7 linked regions of the Homo sapiens genome follow. The protein of the gene in region 1 purifies or fractionates together with the protein of each later gene. This does not show direct contact. Each region holds a gene or a part of one and is shown in the gene's direction. Other genes may lie near its edges.

Region 1 (3,500 bases):
GGCAGGCAGCCGAGAGTCAGAGTCATCCCTCCACTGCATAATGCTGCCCTCACACAGGGCAGTCAGGGGAGGGAGTGATGGGCTTGTCCTGAAGGGGTTAGGGAGGGCTTCCCAGAGAGAGTGAAATGGAAACTGGGCTTCTGGGGAGGCCAGGAGCATGGGGCAGGGAACTCTAGGAGAAGGAAGCGACTGAGGCCCAGAGGCATAGAAGGATGTGATGCTTGGCTGGGCGCGGTGGCTCACACCTGTAATCTAGCACTTTGGGAGGCTGAGATGGGCAGATCATGAGGTCAGGATATCGAGACCATCCTGGCTAACAGGGTGAAACCCCGTCTCTACTAAAAATACAAAAAATTAGCCGGGCGTGGTGGCATGCACCTGTAGTCCCAACTACTCGGGAGGCTGAGGCAGGAGAATGGCCTGAACCCAGGAGGCAGAGTTCACAGTGAGCTGAGATCGTGCCACTGCACTCCAGCCTGGGTGACAGAGCGAGACTCCATCTCAAAAAAAAAAAAAAAAAAAAAAAAAGGATGTGATGCTTGATGAGTGCTGAGTGCTAAGGGGTCTGGTAGCACTAGAGCCCAAAGGAGGAGGGTGGCAGGTCGAGGTTAGCTGGGACCGTTGGGCGTGAAGCAATGGGAAGGGCATTGGCTGCCAGGCTGAGGCACTGCTGAAGTCCTTGAAAGCCCATGTTTGCCCCGCAGTCCTGTGTCTCTGTGACTCTGCTGACCTCAGCAACCTCAGGGCTGAAGCTCTGAGCTTGATCTGTCTCTCTTACGGCAGGAGAGGTGCTGAGAGGGGACCGGATTGTCAACACCCCTTTCCAGGTTCTCATGAACAGCGAGAAGAAGTGTGAAGTTCTGTGCAGCCAGTCCAACAAGCCAGTGACCCTGACAGTGGAGCAGAGCCGACTCGTGGCCGAGCGGATCACAGAAGACTACTACGTCCACCTGTAAGTCGCCCTGTGCTCCTTGCTGCCTCAGGCTCACACAGGGGAGGACACTGACGGGAGAGGCGGTCGAGAGGGACTGAGTGGGGCCTTCACTTTCCAGCATTGCTGACAACCTGCCTGTGGCCACCCGGCTGGAGCTCTACTCCAACCGAGACAGCGATGACAAGAAGAAGGAAAAAGATGTGCAGTTTGAACACGGCTACCGGCTCGGCTTCACAGATGTCAACAAGGTAGAGTGTCTTTGGCGTGCTCACAGGACCGGGAGCCACACCTCACGAGTCCTGAGCACTTGGGGCCACAGAAAAGGTGGGGCTCGGCCACAGCAAGTTTCTCCAGGTGCCCTGGGCATGATGGTCTGTCAGAGGTCCGAGTGCTCCGGGCAAGTCCCTGGGAGGTGCTACAGGGAGGTGAAGCCACAATTCTTAGGAAGTTAGGTTCCATTTTTGTAAGATTAAAACAACATAAAAAAAAAAACCGTGGAACTTCATCAGTATGTAGGAGAGAGGGCTAAGTAGTGGTCAAGAGCGTGCAGGCTCCCTGGGTTTGAATCCTTCCTCTCCCAGTTACTAGTTGTCTAAGTGACCCTGAGCCTGTGGTTCCTTAGCTGTAAAATGTATGCAGCAGCAGTGGCGGGGTAAATTAGCACATTCGTGTGAGCCCTTCCCAGCACAGCCCTGGAGAATCAGCTAATAATGTGATGATTATAGCCCTGATTCTCTTATCTTTCTTTCTAAACTGAAAGATATTAGTTAGGGAATAAATTACAAAAGTATGTGTTTTGAGGTGCAGCCCCTGTCCCCAAAGGGCGTCTGTCCTAACTGGGAAGAGAACCGACAGTGGGAGGCTCTAAGTCTCCAGTCCCAGCTGCCTTTCACTGGCCATTAATTGCAGGCGAGGTCAGAGGGAGCTCCTTTTACACTCAGGTTGTCACAGAGGAGGTGGGCCATGAGAAGTTGGTGGGCTTTTGCTGAGTGGAGTTGGGGGTGGCATTCTAGTTGGAGTGATTGCAGGGTAGAGACTGGTTCATGGGGCGGTGGGCACAGGGGAGTCTAGGTGAACTCATGTGACTTAGATGATTACACCCAGTTGTATCAGGGTCAGATGATAGAAGGCCTTGAATGCCAGACTTTGAGAAATGGGCTTTTGTCTGATAAGCTGCAGGGAGCCCTTGAAGAGCTTCTGAGTAGGGGAGTGATGAGAACAGTGTTTTAGGAAGGTTGGTACAACCAGGCATGCTGGGTGAGGCAAGGGCCCTAATACCTGGAGAGTATCCCTAAGTGATGTTCTGTTGTGCTTTCTCTGTTGCTGTGTTTCAGATCTACCTGCACAACCACCTCTCATTCATCCTTTACTATCATCGGGAGGACATGGAAGAGGACCAGGAGCACACGTACCGTGTCGTCCGCTTCGAGGTGATTCCCCAGAGCATCAGGCTGGAGGGTGAGTGGGGAGGTGTGGCCGGAGGGGCAGGGCTGGATGGGCCTGGGCTTCTCCACGCAGGGTCTTCGCACTCTTCTCCCTCCTGAGCTGGCCGATGGGCTCGGGTGTGGCGTGTGGGCCCAGCCAAGGTAGGATCATGGTATTCTCATTAGAGAAGACGGGGTGTGGGGGCAGCTGACAGCTGCAGTGTCACGGGCTAGACACCTTACTAGTTTACCCCTTCCCAGCAACCCCAGGAGGTACGTGATGATTACAAAGGAAGAACTAGAGGCTCAAAAGGAGCTAGTGACTTGGCCAAGACCAAACAGCAAGTTGGGGCTTTGTTGGGCCTCCTCACAAGAACCAGCCAGCTCACCCTGGGTTGAGAACAAGGGGCCAGGGTACAGACAAAGCCTGTAGGCAGCAGGTTTCTTCGTTCCTCTCCCGCTGTGTGAGTGATTGGCATAAACTAAAATTTGCCCAGGGTCAACAGGTGTGCGGGAGTTTGAGAGTCCAGCACAGTCCTGATGGGCCTCACAGGAGCTGGTCCGGCTTTGCCTCACCTCTTGGCCCTTGATCATCACAGTGTGCTTTTTAATTAAGCAGCATGCCCAGGATTTTGACCATGTTGGTGGTATTTGGACTTTTTTTTTTTTTCCACTGTGGAACTTAGTGTTCAAACAAAATTAGACACAGAAGTCCCAAACATAGATCCTGCCCTTCAAGAGCTCCATAGCACATCTCCCCTGGGAGCTTCCCGAGCGCAGTTCTACGTTTGCATGTGTGACGCTTTTGAGGCCACCTGCTCCCCCACTGGCTCTTCAAGCTTAGAGTCTCCCTGTCTCCTTTTCTTACCATTTTATCTTTTTTTTTCCCCCCAAGACAGAGTCTTGCTCTGTCACCCAGGCTGGAGTGCAGTGGCGCGATCTCCGCTCACTGCAACCTGCGTCTCCTGGGTTCAAGCAATTCTCCTGCCTCAGCCTCCTAAGTAGCTAGGATTATAGGCGCCCACTACCGCACCTGGCTAATTTTTGTATTTTTAGTAGAGACGGGGTTTCACCATGTTGGCCAGGCTGGTCTCAAACTCCGGACCTCGTGATCTGCCTGCCTTGGCCTCCCAAAGTGCTTG
Region 2 (3,500 bases), on another chromosome or scaffold:
TGAATTGTAGTGTTAAGTTACAGCATTTGTGAAATTAGATTTATAGAGACTATTCTGTTATTCAGCCTGGTTAGGAAATGATATAGTCTGCTTCATTATATAGGCAACTTTTTTTTTAAACTTCCCTAAAAGCCTAGCACGTCTCAGTGACTATTCCAAGAAGATAATTGATCTCTGTGACTGTTATAATTTTGGAGGGGGAAATACTACTTTTTTATAGTCTATTTTGACATATAAAGACTGATACTTATTTCAGAATCTGGTTAACTTTGGGAGGTTTTATAGCTGTATGACCTGAAATTCTAAATTGCTCAAAATTAATAGTTAACTAAAACATGTATTTTTAAGCAGCACGTTTCAATAGACTTGAAAATAATGGTTGTCCTACCTACCTCTTTCCTCTTCTGTACCTGTTCTGCTGCCACCTCTATGGACCTTCACTGTGGAAAAATCAACATGCAGGTTTTGGGAACTCTAAGGAAGTAAAAGAGACATCAGATAGCATAAATTAATGAAAGGAACACTAGCTTTGGAGTCAGAGACCTGGGTTTGAGTCCCATGTTTCAAATTACTAGCTCTATAGTTTTAGACAAGTTACAAAATCTAGCTGGAATGCAATTCTCATCTGCAAAATGCAGCTAGTTCCCGTGAGTTAAATGAGATAATACATGTAAAGTGCCTGCCATATGGTGTATATATTCAGTAAATGGCAGCTATTGTTATTGCCTATTTTGATAGTGTATTATAAATAAAAACTAGGGGACATCAGACTGATCTGCACAGTCTATACAGTGCTTAGTTCCTGCCCATTTTTTAATATTGCCTCCATTTTTTAATATTGCCTCCATTTTTTTTATTTGCCTCTTCAAATGCCCCAAAACTTTATGAATTCATTTGTATTAATACTTTCCGAAATGAATATGTCAAACAGGATTATGGTTCTGTTAGAAATTAACACATTAGTCTGAAATGGCATATACCATTTGCTTTCTTACAACTAAAATTTAGTGACAAATGGAGTCAGTATTGAGCAATAGAAAGTTTGAATATGGAAAGAAGGAAATAATCTTGGACTTAGGGCAAGCAAATAAAAGATACCCAGCTAAGAACTTGTATCAGCAAGGAAATAGTAATAGGGACCTATAGAGACAGGATCCAGGTGTCGTGAAAGATGGAGCAAGAGAAATTGGTTGCCAGTGTAGAACAGCTACCAATAGCCAAAATCAAATGTTGATTACTTGAAGCTGGATTAACCAGTTGCATAATATATATTGCATGGATGGACAACAAGAATACATTAGTGCATTTGGGAGAAAACTAATGAGGGAAAACCGTGACAGCTTCTGCCTACCCGAATGTCCCAAGAGGGTAGACTCCATTATCTTGGAGCACTATTCAGTGTTGACCTGCCCTTCCGCTGCTTCCCTTTTTCCAAACATCTTATTTAAGCAGTGGAGGCTGGCCCGTAAAAGGAATGGGATTACGTACGGATGGGAGGGAAGTTTTAAGTGAAGCCTGGAATTTACTGAGTGTTAAGGCTCTTGGAGCCTCAGGAAGTCATCCTTTTCTTTCGAGACTCCTCTGTATTCATGTCCCAAGTTGTCTTCTGAAACACACATAAACACGCAGTTCCTTTACTATCATGTTAACTTTTGGGACCTTATTAATCCAATGAGGACCATTATTCTCCTAGTTTTATTTTAACTGTGGTTTGGGGTTGACTGTAACCTCCTTTTTTTCTACCTTGTAATTCAGGTTAATCTTTAGGTAGGGCTCTGTCCTAAACTCAGGAAGAAGCCTTTTTGAACTTCTCCAAATTGCAAATCATTCTGTTTTCAAGAGGTGCTATTGGTATCTCAGATCTGCAGTGTGATATTTAGAAAGGTTATTGCGCACCAACCAGCCCAATAACTTAATGAGGTTTCTCTGGGAAGTAGTTTATTAAAAACTGTAGAAGGAATTTGCTTGGAGTCAAATATACCTAGGTTCAAATATCATCTGTCACTTAATAGTTAACATTTACTGGCCCAGACAAGGTTCTCAGTGTTTTGGGGAGAAGGAGAGAAGAGAGACAAGCCAACTACAAGTGATAAATATACTAGCTCCTTTGATTCTCTCAGTGGGATATGTATTATTACCCTTTTTGCAGTTTTGAAAACAGGCATAGATATTAAATAACTTGCCCAAGTTTACTAACCTGGCAAGTAACTGTGCCAGGGATTCTAACACAGGAAGTCTGCCTCTAGAGTCCTTGCTGTCCACCACTGTCTCTCTGAGGTAAATCTTTTAACTTTCACAACAACCCTAAGTGAGACTCACTTTACAAATAAGAAACTGTGGCAAAGAGGGTAATTTACCCAGCTCTGTTTGGGATTAAAATTTGGGCAGTCTGGCTCCAGAGTTTATGCTTCTAAATGCTTGCACTATACAGCCAGCCCCTTATTAATGACTTAACTTCAAATGAATTTATCATTTCTGAGTTTCTGTGTATCATAGAATTGTTGAGAGGATTCAATAAAGTATATATTCAGGGGTTATGTTTATGTTTAGTGAATACTAGATAAATAAGTGTCCCCTTTCTCTGTGGAAAAATGTTAATTTCTGAGCTCTAACTTAGAGGTGAACACAACTCACTTATTATCTCTTTAAACTGGTTATTTATGTGCCAGAGCAGTGTAATGAAACCTGATTTTTTTTTTCTTCTTCTGGGATCGGGAGTTTATACACCTTTACCAGAAACTGCCATTGTGAGTGCTTTCTTTTCTTACTGGCCAGGTCCCCTTAGGGGACATTTTTCTTTCCTAAGTCTATCTGGCAGTATCTGCTTTGCTATTTGGCCTTATTTATTCATTGTTTCTTCTCTGTAGTTACAGATGGAGCATGGGTTGAACCGCAGTTTATTTTCTCTGGCAGAGCACCTGTAGATGCTGTTTAATCCTGATCATATTTTTTTCTAGAGCCTCCTCTCCCTCCCGTGAGAGCTCACTTTTTGTAAAGGAAAAGTATGGCATTTTATACTTAGTTGCTGCACTGTGTTCATCTGTATGTATCACATTATGTTGACCATCTTTCTTCAAATTGAATTGAGTGTTAAACTTTCTTTATAGAAACAAGGGAAGCCATCCGTAAAAGGCTCAGTGCAGAAACATCCAGCTTGTTTGTGCTTCTTACCTTTTTTCATACACATAGGCTGTAGAAAATTCATGTAGAATTTTGTATAATACCATGTTGGGATGTTAAATCATGAAACAAGCATTTAAGTAGAGGAAAGCAAAGTTTTGGTATATGGATATAGATGTCATGAATAAAGAGATATTTCCCAATGAGAGATAACCATTTAGAAGCAAAACCCTCTGTACTTTTTTGTCTTAAGACTATTGAAAGATCTTTTACTGATTTTGAGGTTGCTGTAAACATTATGTCATGTTGTATGTTTTTAAATACTAATTGTTTCAGTACTATTGTTTTCTTTTTCTAGCTTGTCCACGTGGTGGTATTTT
Region 3 (3,298 bases), on another chromosome or scaffold:
GGTGTGCACTAAAGTAGTAAGGGCTGGGGGGAAAGAGGTGAGTACAAATTGAGTTCATCTGTGAGGCAGGAAATGCTTATCAAACCCCAAATTAATCATTTTTAAATAACCCATGATCTATTGACTTGTAAGAGTGCAGAAATTTAAAATGAGGCTACATTATTTTAAACATGCTCCTGTTTCACTTTTACTGATCAATAAACAGTAAGTCCTTAGGAAAGGGCAAGGACCCCGAGGCTATAGTTCCAGCCCATTCTCATATCATAAGACATGTCACGGTCTATATAAAATCAAACAACAGCTAACCCCATCTCTACTACACATACAAAAAAATTAGCCAGGCATGGTGGCACACGCCTGTAATCCCAGCTACTCGAGAGGCTGAGACAGGAGAATCACTTGAAATCAGTAGATGGAGGTCGCAGTGAGCCAAGATCACGCCACTACACTCCAGCTTGGGCTACAGAGTGAGACTCTGTCTCAAAAAAAATAAAAAAATAAAAAAATCAAACAACAGCTGATGGTCCTTTCAATTCCATTTCAGATCACTGGGGTAAAGTGTATTAAACAACAAACTGATTCAAATAAACAATAGATGTGGCCATTTATTTAGAGCTGGCTAGAAAATATAAATGGCCACCTATCGATGTTTTTCTGCTTCCTTTTTATCAGGACTTGAGACCAGGAGACGTATCCAGCAAGCGGAACCTCTGGGAAAAGCAATCTGTGGATAAGGTCACTTCCCCCACTAAGGTAATCTATTGGGAAGACTAGTATTTCAGAGGTTTGTTTTCCTGATGTATGGTGTAGTATAATGTCCTGGAGTCAGATGAGAAATATCACTGACCTACAGATCTTTGCCTGCACACCCATCAGTGTCTAAAAGACCAGTACATAACACAGTGAAATGAAAAGCGCATTGCAAGTTTGTCAGTCATACAACATAAACGGCCCAAATCCATGGAATGGTTCTCAGTAGGACATTCTCAATACACCACAGTGGTAGGAACATTGGCAGCAGAAGGCCGTATGGGATACCATGGTCTACGTTTCCTTACAAGGTCCCAGCTTAGTGCCACAGTCATTTAAAAATCACTTGGGGAAAACATCTGTCTCCCTGAGTGTTTCCAAAACTGCTTTCTGGAACCATTTTAGATTACATTGCCACTGCCAGCAGCCTAAGACTCAGGGTTGCTATGGCCAAAAAAAAAAAAAAAAATATTCAAAAGTAAGGCAACCATTTACCACCCTGTGAAAATGAATGATTAAGAATGATTGGGTTCCTCTTACTTTTAGTCTTCTGGTCAAAGGATATGGTCATTCTTCAGAAAGGAGGCTCTGAAGAACATCTAAATGATGCTTACACTGCAAATGGGACCCTTTGTGGTACAATGAGCTCATTCAACTCCCAACTGTAGCCTTTCCCCATTTCAAGTAATAGACCTCGTGTTCTCCTTCAATAAAAAGAAAATTAAAAAGGGAGAAACTGGAGACCAACAATAAGCAAGGTTAGAACAGGCTGCTTATGGGTTGATTTAAACAGAAGCACTTCGTAAGCAAACTCAGGACTAAAGAGCACATCAACGGCAACTAGAGAATCACTACAATTCACTGCAGTGAGAGAATTACCTTCCCTTTCCCACTTTCTCATGCTCTTAGTTCTGGTGCAGCTACCTAAACATATTACCCCACCTTCACTATTAGCTACGTATTGCGCTTTTATTCCATTAAAATCCACTAGCCTTTCTAAGTCATTGCTAAACATATGAAAAGTACCTGCTGGTAATTATCACATTGCTAACTACTAGCGCTACAAGTGAGCACCCCACTATATGCCAGACACTATTCTACCTTCTTACCCTCCATTATTTCATTTGATCCTCCAGTCACCATGTGAGGTAAGTAGTTTATCATTCTCATTTTGCAGCTGAGAAAAATGAGGCATTGAGAGATGAAGTAACTTTCCCAAAGTCACACAGTGAATAAGTAGCATAGCCTGCATTGATACTCCAGCACCTGATCCGAGCCTGCATTTTTAACCATTATACATGGTACTTTCTTTTAGGATGCATATTCAGGAGAAAATGTATAGTTATTCAATTCCTTGTATAATTTTCTCTCGGTGGCAGGGGAGAAAAGAACTTTCTTTGTTATTTTTTAAACAAAGAATGAGCTTGTTGACCTAAGCTTTTATGACCTCTCTAGCCTATGCTATTAGCGCATTGCAGGTTTGTCAGCCATGCAATGTAAATAGCCCAAACCCATGGAATGGTTCCCAGGAAGACATTCTCCACACACCACTGTGGGAGGAACATTGACAGCAGAAGGCTCTCCTCTCAGACCTCTGAGAGGTATCTGACTTCTCAGAATGGCAGTCCCAGTGTTTATATAGGTTCCTGTCTGAAAAGCAGATGTCAGCTGGCCATAGACCATCATCACCAGTATAACGGAGTCTCTCTGGATAACATTCCTCCTAGCCAGAGCTCTGGAAAGTGGAACAAAGATGATGTGGAATGGTCAGACTCAGAGAACACCACTCACATACAAACATGAATGGTACTCCCTGGAGTTATGTAGCACCAGGGCAGTACAAGGTAGGAGGGTGACAGTGTGAGTTTTCATGTGCCACTAACTTCTTTCTACAGTAGTAATAATATAACCACCAGACCGAGAACTGAGTTTATGAGGTAGCAGATTAGGTACCTCTTTTGCTCCAAACTGTCAAACTCATTTCTTGTTACTCAGTCATTCCTTAGAAATGAATACAATGAACACCCTTGAAAATTGGAATTCACAACACTTTAAGATTTCTTAATAGCTTGGCAAAAATTTTTAGCAACTAGCTGAGGGGGAGAGAATGGTGTAAGAATAGGACTATAGGTCAGATAAGTCTCGTGGGGTAGGGGTGTAAGAATAGGAGGGAGAAAATAGAGATTGCTAGATTAAAAATGGGAGAAAACTAAAGATAAACATCCTCCTTCACCATCATACATTGATGTGGCCCTCACTGAGCTATTCAGTCGCATGTGCCTGTTCTGGAATACACACTGTAGATTTTTGGCTCTTACAGTGGGGCTTAAAAATGAAAAAAACAAAGCAACTTACTTGACTCTAAATGCTATAAGCAAGGCCAAAAGTTAAGACAGGAAAAGAGAACATCAAGGAGAAAGACAGGAAGAGGGAAGTGAAAAAAATCAGCAGAAGGAAGGCTAAAATAAAATAAGATCCAGCCAGGCGCAGTGGCTCACACCTGTAATTCCAACACTTTGGGAGGCCGAGGCAGGCAGATCACTGGAGG
Region 4 (3,500 bases), on another chromosome or scaffold:
TGCTTTTAAAAATCACCTGGGCAGCTTTCAGACAGCAGCAGCAACAACAGCAAGACTCCAGCATCTGGGCCTCACTTGAGACCTGTGGAGTCAGGATTTCTGGGAAGTGAGGCCCGGGTACTGGTGTGTTCTTAGCCACCCTGGGAGATTCTGATGCTTGGGGAGGGTTGAGAGCCACCGCTCCACAGTGCTCCTCAGACCTTACCGTGTACCTGAAGCACCAGTCTTGAGATGTGCTCTAAAAAGCACCCAGGTGATGCTGATGCTGCTTTCAAAGACTGCACTGAGTAATGAGGACATTAATGAGAACATTTTGAATGTATTATGCATGCAGTGGCTCTTTTTCTGCTATGTGGGTTCCCTGGGAGCAGAATAAGATTTCTAGTCTGTTTGCTTTGCTGTGTCCTACCACTTAACCTGGGCTATGTATTTCTCTTCATATTTCTTGTCTTTGCAACTGGAATTAGTGTGTTTCTTTGTGCCTCCTTTGGTAATATTTTAGAAAGAAAATAGGTATTTCTTGGACCTACAAGTGATTTCTTTTGTGAAGTATCTGTATTTTCAGGGATAGTTTTTAAAATCTGTCACTCACTTATTTCTATACCTTATGCTTATTGGCCATAAAACAGTGTGAGAATTCAGTGTACAAACCTGTAACTTAAAATTTAACCTCTTTAACCAGAACTGGAAAGAGAACTCATTTGGGACTTATAATGGATGGCTGGAACTCAATGATACGATATTATAAGAACAACTTTTCCGATGGATTTAGACAAGTAAGTTTGTATTTGATGCTTTCCTGGCATTACGTGGTTGTATCTTTGCATTGTTCATCACTAATGTTATCTCACACTGAGTTTACGAATTTCTTCCTTTCTGTTCTAGGATTCCATAGACTTATTTCTTGGAAACTATTCAGTGGATGAATTAGAATCTCATAGTCCTTTAAGTGTTCCAAGGGACTGGAAATTCCTGGCTGTAAGAAACCATTTTGTATTTTTCAAGTTTTTAAAAGCATTGTGTCTGAAGGTATAGATGGTTTCAGTCTCAATTTAAAACGTTATATGTGGTTTTATATTTCATTACATGAAATATAAATACTTAAGTTTTCCAAAGAGGTCAGGCTGAGGAGTACAGTAACTGTGGAGCATTTGTTTTCTTTTCCTCAGACTCTCACACATCCTTTTCATGTGAAGTAACATAAGCAAAGGGAATGTGGAAGCTTTCTCATTTCAGGAAAACTTCAATTCTCTTACATTGAGGGAATTGCCAGAGACAAACGTGTTACATGGAAGGCAAAGTTTATTTTTGATGCTTCTCTCCTTTTTGACTCCTCTGTTCACCAGACCCTGCAAGAGCCGCTCTGGATTTTCTTTCCAGTGTGTCAAGTGCTCTGGAATGGAAGGGAGGCCTAGTGTTCTAGGTCCTCATCTGGGCATCCTCCTTCCATTTAGCACCCTTTGGCTTGGAGCAAAAGCATGCTTCTTCCGATCTTACCACATCCCCCATCTAAAGTCTAGGGCAGTTGTGATTGAACCCATAAATAATAATGTTTTGTTGACAAAAGATATTAGCTGTGTATTAGCTGACAGATGAGTTTTATTCTTTTCCCAAGCAATGCATGCACAACTGATTTTGCTGCCATTGATTAGCATTCTTAAATGATGATCTCTTTCTATTGTCTTTTCCAGTTGCCTATTATCATGGTTGTTGCCTTTTCAATGTGCATTATCTGTTTGCTTATGGCTGGTAAGTCTGCTCCACACATTTGTTTCTTAGTTAGAATGTTGACCTTTCTTTTACAACATCTTAAGTTTTTGAGTTCACCGAACACTTGATGTTTCCCTATTAAATTTAATGGGTAAAGTGGATGTGACATTAGATTGTCATTAGATGTGACAGGAAGAAAAATAACATACCTAGTAGTTTGATGGTTGTCGTTTTTTTTAACCTCAGATTTTAAAAACATGTTTTTCTTATTACTGTAAACCAATGAGTGTCTGAGACAGGTCTCAGTCAGTTTAGAGGCTTAATTTGCCAAGGTTGAGGACCTGCCCAGGAAAAAGAGACACAAGATACAGTAGGATCAGTATCTTGTGCTTTTTCCAAAGAGGGTTTTAAGGACTTCAGTATTAAATGGGGAAAGAGTGTACAGGAGAGGAAGGAGGAATGGAAACAAAAGGGGAGGGTAGGTAGTAAGATAAGTGGTCACATTCTTGTGAGGCTTTGATTAGCACTCACTGAATCCATGTTACATGTGAAAGGACGGGGTAGAGGAACAGTCAATTATGCATTCATCTCCTGCTCAGTAAATCTGCATTTTATGTAAGACAAAGTAAACATAGAGTAGATAAAGAAGTCAGATCTGCATTTGTTTTGGGGTGGGCGGAGGGATGATTTTCTAGTCTTGTCTTTGTCCCATACCTGTGAAAATAAACTGTTAATTTACATTGTCAGGGTGAGGGAGATTCAACAGGACTGTCTTTTAGGGTAAAGATTTTGGGGCCCACAAGGAATTTGCTTGTGACAGTTTGTGAGGGTGGCCATCTGTGAGGATATGTGGCCCACTATCTTTGCAGCTGTCTACTTAGGAACAAAAGGAGGGTAGTTTTGTGAGACTCAGTTCCCAAGTTTAACTTTTTCCTTTGGCATAGTAAATTTGGAGTCCTGAGATTTTATTTTCCTTTCACATTACCAAAGTAATACATAGTAATTATAGAAAGCACACGTAGGCAGAAAAGGAGAAAATATTATTTATCATCATACCTTTGAGAGAGAAGCTAACCACTCTTAACATTTTGATGTTTTAATCTTTATAAGTGTCTGTGATTTTTTTTCAAAAGTGAGATACGTATTTTCATTATCTGCTTTTTTTCACTGAGCAGTATGTTTTCCCATGTTCTTAATTGCTAATGGCTGCAAAGTATTCCATTTATGGATGTATAGTTTAACCAACTCAAATAAATGTTAATGGATTAAGATATTACTTATCATTACATTTTAAAGGTTGAGAGTAAAATTGCCTGAGAACCTGAGGAGACAAGGTCTTTACTGGTTTTCTTTTTTCTCTTAATATTTTGCTATGTTACTGAGTTAATAAAGCATTTAAGATTAAAGTGAGAAGAATGTATTCTTTATTCTCCTTTGAGTAATGTCCTGTAATTTGGAGGTTTGAGTCTGAGACTTGGTGTATTGGACGTTGGAGATGCAATCCTAGTCACTCTGAAAGAAGAGGCACCTTCCAGCCTTCATCCTCTATCCTGAATTCGTTGAGCCAACCTCTCTCTGCCTGTCTGAATTCCACCATCCTCAGGGCACCATTCATATGCTCCCCTCTCACAGAGTGTCTCTCCCACACAGAAGTCTTCACCTTCTGTCTGGATTTCCACAGCACTCCTGGTCCTCTCTCCCAGCACTTTCCTCTTTTAACCTCATTAATACATAGGGAGTTATTTTTCAGAGGTGGTATACCTCTTTGGTGTACCTGACATACCCAGTGT
Region 5 (3,500 bases), on another chromosome or scaffold:
CATTTTATAGAAGCAGATCCTAAGACATGGATGTGAGGATACGCAGTTTATTTGGGTATTCCTCCCAGGAAACACCGGTAGGGAAGTATGGAACTGAGATGGGAAAGGCAAGAATTCAATACAACGTGCGTCCATGGGCAAGTCACCACCCTGAGCTTCATGTCCTGGGAGAACTCACAGTCCCATTATGGAGCGAACCTCTTCGGGATCCCAAGTGGGACGCTGGCGTGCTTACTCACCAGCTTCCCAGCCGTCACTGGTTGGGGGCTGCTTTGGGAGCACTAACTCACTGGCCCCTGTTGTTTGTCCTCGGGCAGAGTCCTAGGTGTTTGAAGTAAAACCTACATGCTGCAAGCCCAGATCCTAGAGGTTTCATCTCATGTGCTAACTCCTATCAGCTGTAGTGGCTGGCTGCGTGGAGTTGCTCTTTGGAGAAGGTATAAGAGACAGGATCTGATTTTAGCAAGGAAGAGAGTGCTGGGATGTCTCAGTGATGTGTACCATGGAACTGGTTCCTGGTTCTCCCTATGAGTTTATATATATATATATTTTTTGAGACGGAGTCTCGCTCTGTCGCCCAGGCTGGAGTGCAGTGCCGTGATCTCGGCTCACTGCAACCTCCACCTCCAGGGTTCAAGTGATTCTCCAGCCTCAGCCTCCCGAGTAGCTGGGATTACAGCCCGCCACCATGCCATGCCTGGCTAATTTTTCTATTTTTAGTAGAGATAGGATTTCACCATGTTGGCCAGGCTGATTTCAAACTCCTAACCTCAGGTGATCCGCCCACCTCGGCCTCCCAAAGTGCTGGGATTACAGGCTTAAGCCACCACACCCGGCCTCCCTATGAGTATTGAAAGAGATACAAAACAGATATTAAAGAAAATGAGGGACATTGAGGACATCCAGGGAGGGGTCTGATGCATGGAAAGCCCAATGTTGGTTCTCCAGAGTAAGAATTTCACAAAAAGGACAATTAGACAAGGCAAACCTTTGGTTTCTGAAGATATGAGGTCTCAAGTGTCCCTGGAGGGATACTTCCAATGTAAAGGCAGGCTCTCCCCAAAATACTACTTACCACCCTCTGGCTTCCTCAATCCCCAATCTCTTCCTTTGCTCCTTCACTCCTCAGGGCCTTCTCTTCCCAACTCCCAGCCACCCCCTGAGGTCTATGTGAGCCTGATCAAGGCCTGCGGTGGTCCTGGAAATTTCTGCCCATCCTTCAGCGAGCTGCAGAGAAATTTCGTGAAACATCGGCCAACTAAGCTGAAGAGCCTCCTGCGCCTGGTGAAACACTGGTACCAGCAGGTGAGGGGGCTGCCAGGATGGCAGGGGCAAGGAGAGGGAAGAGGGTGAGGAGGAAAGGCAGGGCCTGATTTTCATCTCAGGAAGCTGCAGCCAGGGGAAATGGAAGCAGGTAGAGAGGGAGAGAATGCTAGTCTTTTGAAATGTAAAGTGAAACCGTCAGTGAAGAAGGTGGAAAAGGAGGAGAGGAGGAGGAAGAGGAGAAAGAAACAGAGAAGGAAGGAGAAAAATAGGTGCTCTACAGTATTTCAGTAAACTAGTTATTTTTATTTTATTTTATTATTTTTTTTTGAGACAGGATCTTGCTTTGTTGCCCAGGCTGTAGTGCGGTGGTGCAATCACCACTCACTGTAGCCTCCACCTCCCTGGATCAAGACCTCCCTGGCTCAAGTGATCCTCCCACCTTAGCCTCCTAAGTAACTGGGACTACAGGCATGCACAACCATGCCCAGCTAATTTTTTTTATTTTTCTTTTGTAGAGACAGGGTCTCACTATGTTGACCAGCCTGGTTTCGAAGTGGTCTCAAGCGATCCTCCCACCTTGGCCTCCCAAAGTGCTGGGATTACAGGCACGAGCCACCACACCCACCCCACATGTTCTTGTTACCCTTCAATTACAGTCTAGGCCTGGCAGATGTCAGCTTCGCCGGGTACTGTGGCCATTCGTCACAGCAGGTTAAGGACTAACAAGGGGAAGGATTTCTTTAATTCCACCCCAGGAGTCGAAAAGAGGGCATGTGTGAGTGTAAACAGCCCTCAGGGACATTTCTCAGGCAGCAGCTCAGTCAGTTTTGGAAACAAAATCTTCCTCCGAGATAACGGAAACTCCAACTGCAAAACAGAACTCAGAGACAAAAATCATTTATTATATAGAACTTGCAGAGAAGTTACAAGGGAATCAGACAGCAGAAGGAAAGATTTGATCCAATAAAAATAAAATAGGCTGGGCATGATGGCTCACGCCTGTAATCCCAGCATTTTGGGAGGCCGAGGTGGGCAGATCATGAGATCAGGAGATCGAGACCATCCTGGCTAACACAGTGAAACCCCATCTCTACTAAAAATACAAAAAAATAGCCAGGCGTGGTGGCGGGCGCCTGTAGTCCCAGCTACTCGGGAGGCTGAGGCAGGAGAATGGTGTGAACCCAGGAGGCGGAGCTTGCAGTGAGCCGAGATCGCGCCACTGTACTCCAGCCTGGGCAAGAGAGCAAGACTCTGTCTCAAAAAATAAAATAAAATATAACAGGGATTTAAAGAAAAAACAATTACCGGCCAAATGTGGTAGCTCACGCCTGTAATTTCAGCACTTTAGGAGGCTGAGGTAGGAGGATCACTTGAGCCCAAGGGTTCAAGACCAGCCTGAGCAACATAGTGAAACCCCGTCTCTACAAAAAATACAAAAATACAAAAATTAGCTGGGGGTGGTGATGGGTTCCTGTAGTCTCAGCTGCTCAGGAGGCTGAGGAGGAAGGATCACTTGAGCCCCGGAGGTGAAGTAAGTTGAGCTGGGTATTTTTTTTATCTATTCACTAAGGCTTACATCTTACAGATTACAGGCATCCTACATTTTATATATCATCTAAGTTTTAAGAATGTAACATTTCACTAATATTGAAGAAAATAAGTTATATTACCATGAGTTTAAATTTCTAACAAAATTATAATGTTATTAGTTATGGTTTACAAAATTGAGTGTTAAGGATGAATTTGCAAAAAGTTACAAAACAAATTAATTAACTTATAATTTTTTTTTTTTTGAGACAGAGTCTTGCTCTGTCGCCCAGGCTGGAATGCAGTGGCGCAATCTCAGCTCACTGCAAGCTCCGCCTCCCGGGTTCATGCCATTCTCCTGCCTCAACCTCCCGAGTAGCTGGGACTACAGGTGCCCGCCACCATGCACAGCTAATTTTTTATATTTTTAGTAGAGACGGGGTTTCACCGTGTTAGCCAGGATGGTCTCGATCTCCTGACCTTGTGATCCACCTGCCTTGGCCTCCCAAAGTGCTGGGATTACAGGCGTGAGCCACTGAGCCCAGCCTTATAAATACATTTTAATTCAAAATTGAATTTCTAAGGTCAAGGATAAAGTTTTTTTGTTAGTAAGTCAGTGACCTATAGGAAAGGCCCAAGGTTTCATTTATTTGGGAGATGAGAATTATACAAGATGATTCTGTGTTTGTTTCAAGGCCAAAGTGTTA
Region 6 (3,500 bases), on another chromosome or scaffold:
ATGTATAGCATAGAGGAAAATGTGAGTAGGAATAATTACAATGCATTTGTTGATAGACTTAACTTACAAAGCACTTTCACCTCTGTTCATTTGTTTTAACCTTCACAGCTCTGTGAGGTAATTAGAGGTTGGAAATCTTGACACAGGGGATAACATTTGGGTTATCTTTGAGCAGATGCAAGTAGTTCTCAGTGCCCTTAGGACTTTTGAAACAGCTACAGCACCTCTAATTTTAAGAGAGGAAACCTGATGAAATAAAAACCTAAATTGACTCCGTGGCCCACCCCTAGCTTATTTGAGGCTCTTCAGTTCAGTTGGCAGCTCATTTAACTGTTCTTTTGAATGAAAATACTGCAATTAGAGCTGTTTCTGTGAGTTTCCTGGTGTGCACCTTCGTAATAGTTACTTGAAACCAGTCATTAAAAGTTCCATATATCAGGCGATTAGTCCGTGTAAAGCTGATGAAAGCTGCCTTTCATCTGTTTGCGTAGGTTTCTTCCATGAGTGGTAATTTTCTTGCAGCCAGTTCAGATGATTTTCAAAGGTATTAAGACGTCTATACTCAAAATACCTGATTAGTGATGATATTGAATAAAACTTTTTTCAGCTCAATAAGTTACATAAATGCAGAACTTTATTTTAATTATTCATATATATTTAATTGAATATATATTCCTTAATTTCTCTTTAGGTGTCTTATAAGACTTTGACACTTCCTGTTTTGTCTGAAAAAAATGTGAATTACCTGTGATATTTGGACTCCAGTGTGGCTGGGCTATCTCCCCTCATACCTATAGAATTAGGTACTACCATTTTTCTCTAGTTTAGAGTGTAGGAAGGAAAGTTTCTTATCCTCCCTTTTCTCTTCATAAGGAAATGCAGCATCAGAGTGATTCTATATTCCAAGCAGTTCAAAGAATTCTGAACCATAAGCTGAGCTTAGTTTCAGGTGGACAAATAGTTTTTCAAGCACCAGAATTTTCATTATTTCAAGTAGTTTTAGTATAGCTATAAATGTTCTATAGCCTAAATGTCTTTTACTTTTCAAATTACAACACTGTAAGTATGGTAAGTCACTTTTATTTAAACAGATATCTATTAGGTCCTATTGTGTACAAGGCATATGCTAGAGAATATGAGAATGCTTACAGAAAACTATAATATATTTCCTTTCCTATCAATACATGGGAAATGCCACAAGATATACACATGCTGTGAGGGGGAAAAGGGATCTGATCTATTTAGAGAACTTATTTGGTATTCAGGAATAAGAAGAGAGCAGTTGGATAAGAATGGCTTTTATTTATTTATTGTTTTTGGTTGGGGGGTGGGGAGGTTGGGGGGCGGGGGACAGGGTCTTGCTCTGTCTCCCAGGCTGGAGTACAGTGGCGCTCTCTGGGCCTCACTACAACCTCTGCCTCCCAGGTTCAAGCGATTCTCCTGCCTTAGCCTCCAGAGTAGCTGACATTACAGGCACACGTCACCCGGCTAAATTTTGTATTTTTAGTAGAGACGGGGTTTCACCATGTTGACCAGGCTGGTCTCGAACTTCTGACCTCAGGTGATCCGCCTGCCTCAGCCTCCCATAATGCTGGGATTACAGGCGTGAGCCACTGCATCTGGCCCAAGAATGGCTTTTTTTTTTTAAAGGGGTTAAGCTTGAAGAGGAAAAAACATTTTTAAAAAATACATAAATAAATGATAAATTATAGTAATTGTTTTCCTTAAAAGAAATAGAATTTGGCTGGGTGCAGTGGCTCATGCCTGTAATCCCGGCACTTTGGGAGGCCGAGGCAGGTGGATCACGAGGTCAGGAGATCAAGACCATCCTGGCTAACACGGTGAAACCCTGTCTCTACTAAAATACAAAAAATTAGCCAGGCGTAGTGGTGCGCGCCTGTAGTCCCAGCTACTTGGGAGGCTGAGGGAGGGGAATTGCTTGAACCCGGGAGGCGGACGTTGCAGTGAGCTGAGATCCGCATCACTGCACTCCAGCCTGGCAACAGAGCAAGAGACTCCATCCAAAAAAAATAGAAATAGAATTTTGTTCTCCACAAAATAATGTGTCTGGCAAATTTTAAAGAACTCCATCAGTCCCCACTGGAGTTGTACTTAATTGCAGCCTATCAGAAACCAAATATATTAGAAGTCAGTTATATTTACATTGCTTTTATTAGTATATTTCATTTTCACTGTGTCATTTGTAACTCTCATCTTGTTTCTTCTTATTTTAGACCTGGAATGGCCAAATATCAAGGTGAAGTTCAAAGTTTGAAACTGGATGATGATTCAGTTATAGAAGGAGTAAGCGACCAAGTACTTGTGGCAGTTGTGGTCAGTTTCGCTTTGATTGCTACCCTGGTATATGCACTTTTCAGGTGAGATTTAAGGACAAAAGAATTGAGTAGATTTGCAAGGGCTGCTGACTTTTTGACCCCTAATAATGTATAATACTTAATATGAACAGCAAGTAACAGATCTCAGTGATTGTAGATGTTTACTAAGGTATTTTATTTTCCACGGGGCTTTGAATGCTAACATATATTTCCTGTCATCAGCTGTCTTACCAAATAATAATTAAATTTATCATCCACATTTTGAATAAAATATTAGTACTTTCTATTGGCGTATGGCAATTTAAAAAACTTTAATTTCCATAATTAAATCCATCAACTTGTAGGTGATATAGATGATAAGTGCAAAATACTTTCAGTTTTAAATGGAAAAATTGAGGCAAAAAAAGACTTGTATAGTAAAAAGGGAACTAATATTAGAATTAATTTTTTTACTTATTTATTTATTTATTTATTTTTTGAGACGGAGTCTCAATGTGTCGTCCAGGCTGGAGTGCCATGGCACTGTCTCAGCTCACCACAACCTCTGCCTCTGGGGTTCAAGCGATTCTCCTGCCTCAGCCTCCCAAATAGCTGGGATTACAGGCACATGCCACCATGCCCGGCTTATTTTATATTTTTAGTAGAGATGGGGTTTCTCCATGTTGATCAGGCTGGTCTCAAACTCCTGACCTGAGGTGATCCACCTGCGTCAGCCTCCCAAAGTGCTGGGATTACAGGCTTGAGCCACTGCACCTGGCCCTAATTTTTTGTATTTTTTTGTAGAGACAGGATTTCGCTAGGTTGGCCAGGCTGGTCTCAAACTCCTGACCTCAAGTGAACCACCCGACTCAGCCTCCCAAAGTGCTGGGATTACACTCATGAGCCACTATGCCCAGCCTATTTATTTATTTTAGAGACAGGGTCTCGCTACATTGCCCCAGTTGGACTTGAACTCCTGGACTCAAGCAGTCCTCCCATCCCAGCTTCCCAGGTTGCTGGGACTACAGGTATGCACCACTGCACCTGATTCTAAAATTAATTTAGGCTGGATGTGGTGGCTCACGCCGGTAATCCCAGCACCTTGGGAGGCTGAGGCAGGCGGATCACCTGAGGTCAGGAGTTCGAGACTAGCCTGGCCAACATGGTGAAACCCTCGTCTCTACT
Region 7 (3,500 bases), on another chromosome or scaffold:
CCAGGCTGGTCTCAAACTCCTGGCCTCATGTGATCTGCCCTCCTCGGCCTCCCAAAGTGCTGGGATTACAGATGGGAGCCACTGTGACCAGCTTTACCCATTATTTCTTAGTAAAATTTTATTACAGAATTTGTATTTCTTAGATGTGCTGTAGACACGTATCACTATTAGCACTTAAAACAGTGATATATAGTAGTACTTGGTAAGTATTTGTTGAATAAATTATCAAATTTACGAGCTAGAAAGGCACACTTGAGAAATAAACTAAAGAGAAACTCTTTTTGGAGTCTCGCTCTGTAGCCCAGGCTGGAGTGCAGTGGTGTGATCTTGGCTCACTGCAACCTCTGTCTCCTGGGCTCAAACCATTCTCCCACCTTAGCCTCCTGAGTAGGTGGGATTACAGACATGCACCACCACGCCCAGATAATTTTTGTACTTTTACTAGATATGGGGTTTTGCCATGTTGGCCAGGCTGGTCTTGAACTCCTGACCTCAAGTGATCCGCCCACCTCGGCCTCCCAAGGTGTTGGGATTACAGGCATGAGCCACTGAGCCCAGCCAAGAGACTCTTATCTTAAATGCTTATCCATTGCAAATGTGCATTCATATTGTCTAAAAAGCACTAATACAGTTTTGGTGGGCCCAATGCAAGATCCTCATTTGTTGGGTCACTACTTGAACATAAAAGTTTACCTTAAGATACTGCAGTGTGGGGCCAGGCACGCTTGCTCACTCCTGTAATCCCAACACTTTGGGAGGCTGAGGTGGTTGGATCACCTGAGGTCAGGAGTTAGAGACCAGCCTGAACAACATGGTGGAACCCTGTCTCTACTAAAAAATACAAAAATTAGCCGGGCACAGTGACGGGCACCTGTAGTCTCAGCTACTCGGGAGGCTGAGACAGGAAAATCACTTGAACCCAGGAGGCGGGAGTTGCAGTGAGCTGAGATCACACCATGGCACTCCAGCCTAGGCGACACAGCAAGACTCCATCTCAAAAAAAAAAAAAAGTTACTGCAATGTGTTGTAATCATTTTTATTGCAGAAGCCTTTCCTCCTTGCTGGATGTTTTTCTTCATGTCACAAAGGAAGTGTCTCAGGCTTTTGCACCATGAAAATAAGATGAAGTTTGTTATTCCAAAATTTAACTTATTTAAAATGTAGATGCTAAAAAATTACCTTAATTGTTTAAAAAAAAAATCTGTACGTATTGCTGTCATCCTCCAGCTTCATGTTCTTTCACCAAGCTCCTCTTGGTTTTGGAGACTTGTCTTGATTTTAGTTAAAGAAAAATAAGTGATTGGTTGGTGTCCTACAGAAAACAATTTTGTCTTGACTGACCTGTCCAGTAATTAATTTTAGAAGTATTAGTTACTATATACAGGTCAAGAATGAGTGATGGCACTCTGTACTTTAGTGCCTTAGGTTCTAATGCAGCCAGCAATGTAGTATGCTTAGAGATGGGGATCAGGGGTCAGGATGGCTTCCCAGATTTCTGCCTTTGAAGGAAACTGAAGATATCAGAGGCAAAAATTTGAGGTTGAGGTAAAAGAGACTGAAATATTCAGTGTTCATTTCAGAGCAAGAGTTGCCTTTATTAGGCCTCAAGTATAGAGACACGTCTATCATCTGAACTTTAAAAGTACTTTAATAGTTTACTGATGACACGATGTTGAAATTCTGTAACTTGGCCGGGCACGGTGGCTCACGCCTGTAATCCTAGCACTTTGGGAGGCCGAGGCAGGCGGATCACGAGGTCAGGAGATCGAGATCATCCTGGCTAACATGGTGAAACCCTGTCTCTACTAAAAATACAAAAAATTAGCCGGGCGTGGTGGCGGGGCGCCTGTAGTCCCAGCTACTCGGGAGGCTGAGGCAGGAGAATGGCGTGAACCCAGGAGGCGGAGCTTGCAGTGAGCCTAGATTGCACCACTGCACTCCGGCCTGGGGGACAGAGCGAGACTCCGTCTCAAAAAAAAAAAAAAAAAAAAGAACAAATTCTATACTTGCTAGAGACTGCTTTTTATTGTTGTTATGAAAGTTGGCTGAGTCTGGTGGCTCACACCTGTAATCCCAGCACTTTGGGAGGCTGAGGTGGGTGGCTTGCTTGAGCTCACGAGTTTGAGACCAGCCTGGACAATAGTGGTGAAACCCCATCTCTACAAAAAGACAAAAAAGCAAGAATTAGCTGAGCATGGTGATGTGCGCCTGTGGTCCCAGCCACTTAGGAGACTGAGGTAGGAGGATGGCTTGAGCTGGGGGCAGAGGTTGCAGTGAGCTGAGATTGTGCCATTGCACTCCAGCCTGGGTGACTGAGCCAGAACTTGTCTTAAAAAAAAGAAAAGAAAAGGAAAAAAGAAAATCATGATGCCAAAATAAAACTACATTTTATATGTTTGTTCATGGAAATTAGCTCAAAGCAAAAACAGCTTGGGCAATTTTTTGAAAAAGGTTTTGCTTTAAATATTTCTTTCCTCACTCATGAAACTTAGTTGTTCTGTGTACTTTTTATGGCTTCATTTTCACACTTTGTTCTACCATATTAATCAAATGTGAATATGTAATTTGTGTTTTGAGTTAACCCTTAAATAAAAAGGAATGTGGCCCCCGTCCAACACTGACATCATCTGAGTGTTACATTCGTGTCAGATTATCAGTGGCAGTGTAATGTGTTAAAACACAGACTTGAGCTCCAGGAATGCCTAGATTTCAATCCTGGCCCTGTCTCTTAATAATTATGTGATCTTGTGCAAGTCCTGAGCCTCAGTTTCCTTAACTTGAAAATTGGGATAATAGTATCTATCTTGGAGTTGGTATGAAAATTAAACACAATTTGGCTGGGCACGGTGGCCCACGCCTGTAATCACAGCACTTTGGGAGGCCAAGGCGGGTGGATCATCTGAGGTCAAGAGTTCGAGACCAGCCTGGCCAACATGGTGAAACCCTGCCTCTATTAAAGATACAAAAAATTAGCTGGGTGTAATCCTGTAATCCCAGCTACTCAGGAGGCTGAGGCAGGAGAATCACTTGAACCCAGGAGGTGGAGGTTGCAGTGAGCCAAGATAGCGCCATTGCACTCCAGCCTGAGCAACAGGGTGAGACTCCATCTAAAAAAAAAAAAAAAGTGAACACATTTATAGGGCTTAACACAGTGTCTTGCCTGTAGTAAATAACTGTACCATTAATGTGAAGAAATGAAATATAGATCAACAATGTGACCTAGACACATTTGCTTTGTACCCTTAAATCCTGACCTTTATTAAATAACAATACCTAATGTTTGACATCCATTTGTAGGTTACAAACTACTTGCACATATTAATAGATACCACATAGCAGTTCAAGTACAAATGAGAAATCTGTCTTCCTCACAATCAAAGACTATTGTTATGCCTTTTTTCCCTTTCCACATGTGAGTCAGTTGTTTCAGTTTGTGGCCCTTCACATTAATGTCATAAAGCTGCCACCCGCTTCCACTGAGGTGGTCTGTTAAAGAGGTA

The links.
Region 2: the proteins of TM9SF4 (region 1) and ZC3H15 purify together in Homo sapiens (affinity purification with mass spectrometry; one large-scale study listed by BioGRID and IntAct). This does not show direct contact.
Region 3: the proteins of TM9SF4 (region 1) and CALD1 purify together in Homo sapiens (affinity purification with mass spectrometry; one large-scale study listed by BioGRID and IntAct). This does not show direct contact.
Region 4: the proteins of TM9SF4 (region 1) and SACM1L purify together in Homo sapiens (affinity purification with mass spectrometry; 2 studies listed by BioGRID and IntAct, with this or other methods). This does not show direct contact.
Region 5: the proteins of TM9SF4 (region 1) and OASL purify together in Homo sapiens (affinity purification with mass spectrometry; one large-scale study listed by BioGRID and IntAct). This does not show direct contact.
Region 6: the proteins of TM9SF4 (region 1) and RNF170 purify together in Homo sapiens (affinity purification with mass spectrometry; one large-scale study listed by BioGRID and IntAct). This does not show direct contact.
Region 7: the proteins of TM9SF4 (region 1) and RTN3 purify together in Homo sapiens (affinity purification with mass spectrometry, with the first as the bait; one large-scale study listed by BioGRID). This does not show direct contact.

The regions. Positions count from the first base shown.
Region 1 is NC_000020.11:32,140,714-32,144,213, forward strand, and holds part of TM9SF4 (transmembrane 9 superfamily member 4 isoform 1 precursor), read left to right. Parts: intron 1-783; coding exon 784-952; intron 953-1,052; coding exon 1,053-1,182; intron 1,183-2,268; coding exon 2,269-2,392; intron 2,393-3,500. UniProt on the Homo sapiens protein: Associates with proteins harboring glycine-rich transmembrane domains and ensures their efficient localization to the cell surface.
Region 2 is NC_000002.12:186,489,260-186,492,759, forward strand, and holds part of ZC3H15 (zinc finger CCCH domain-containing protein 15), read left to right. Parts: intron 1-3,500. UniProt on the Homo sapiens protein: Protects DRG1 from proteolytic degradation. Stimulates DRG1 GTPase activity likely by increasing the affinity for the potassium ions.
Region 3 is NC_000007.14:134,964,634-134,967,931, forward strand, and holds part of CALD1 (caldesmon), read left to right. Parts: intron 1-672; coding exon 673-753; intron 754-3,298. UniProt on the Homo sapiens protein: Actin- and myosin-binding protein implicated in the regulation of actomyosin interactions in smooth muscle and nonmuscle cells (could act as a bridge between myosin and actin filaments).
Region 4 is NC_000003.12:45,737,896-45,741,395, forward strand, and holds part of SACM1L (phosphatidylinositol-3-phosphatase SAC1), read left to right. Parts: intron 1-682; coding exon 683-776; intron 777-885; coding exon 886-978; intron 979-1,691; coding exon 1,692-1,749; intron 1,750-3,500.
Region 5 is NC_000012.12:121,029,247-121,032,746, reverse strand, and holds part of OASL (2'-5'-oligoadenylate synthase-like protein), read left to right. Parts: intron 1-1,129; coding exon 1,130-1,305; intron 1,306-3,500.
Region 6 is NC_000008.11:42,886,606-42,890,105, reverse strand, and holds part of RNF170 (E3 ubiquitin-protein ligase RNF170), read left to right. Parts: intron 1-691; exon of another isoform or gene 692-803; intron 804-2,234; coding exon of another isoform or gene 2,235-2,241; coding exon 2,242-2,378; intron 2,379-3,500. UniProt on the Homo sapiens protein: E3 ubiquitin-protein ligase that plays an essential role in stimulus-induced inositol 1,4,5-trisphosphate receptor type 1 (ITPR1) ubiquitination and degradation via the endoplasmic reticulum-associated degradation (ERAD) pathway.
Region 7 is NC_000011.10:63,684,500-63,687,999, forward strand, and holds part of RTN3 (reticulon-3), read left to right. Parts: intron 1-3,500. UniProt on the Homo sapiens protein: May be involved in membrane trafficking in the early secretory pathway. Inhibits BACE1 activity and amyloid precursor protein processing. May induce caspase-8 cascade and apoptosis.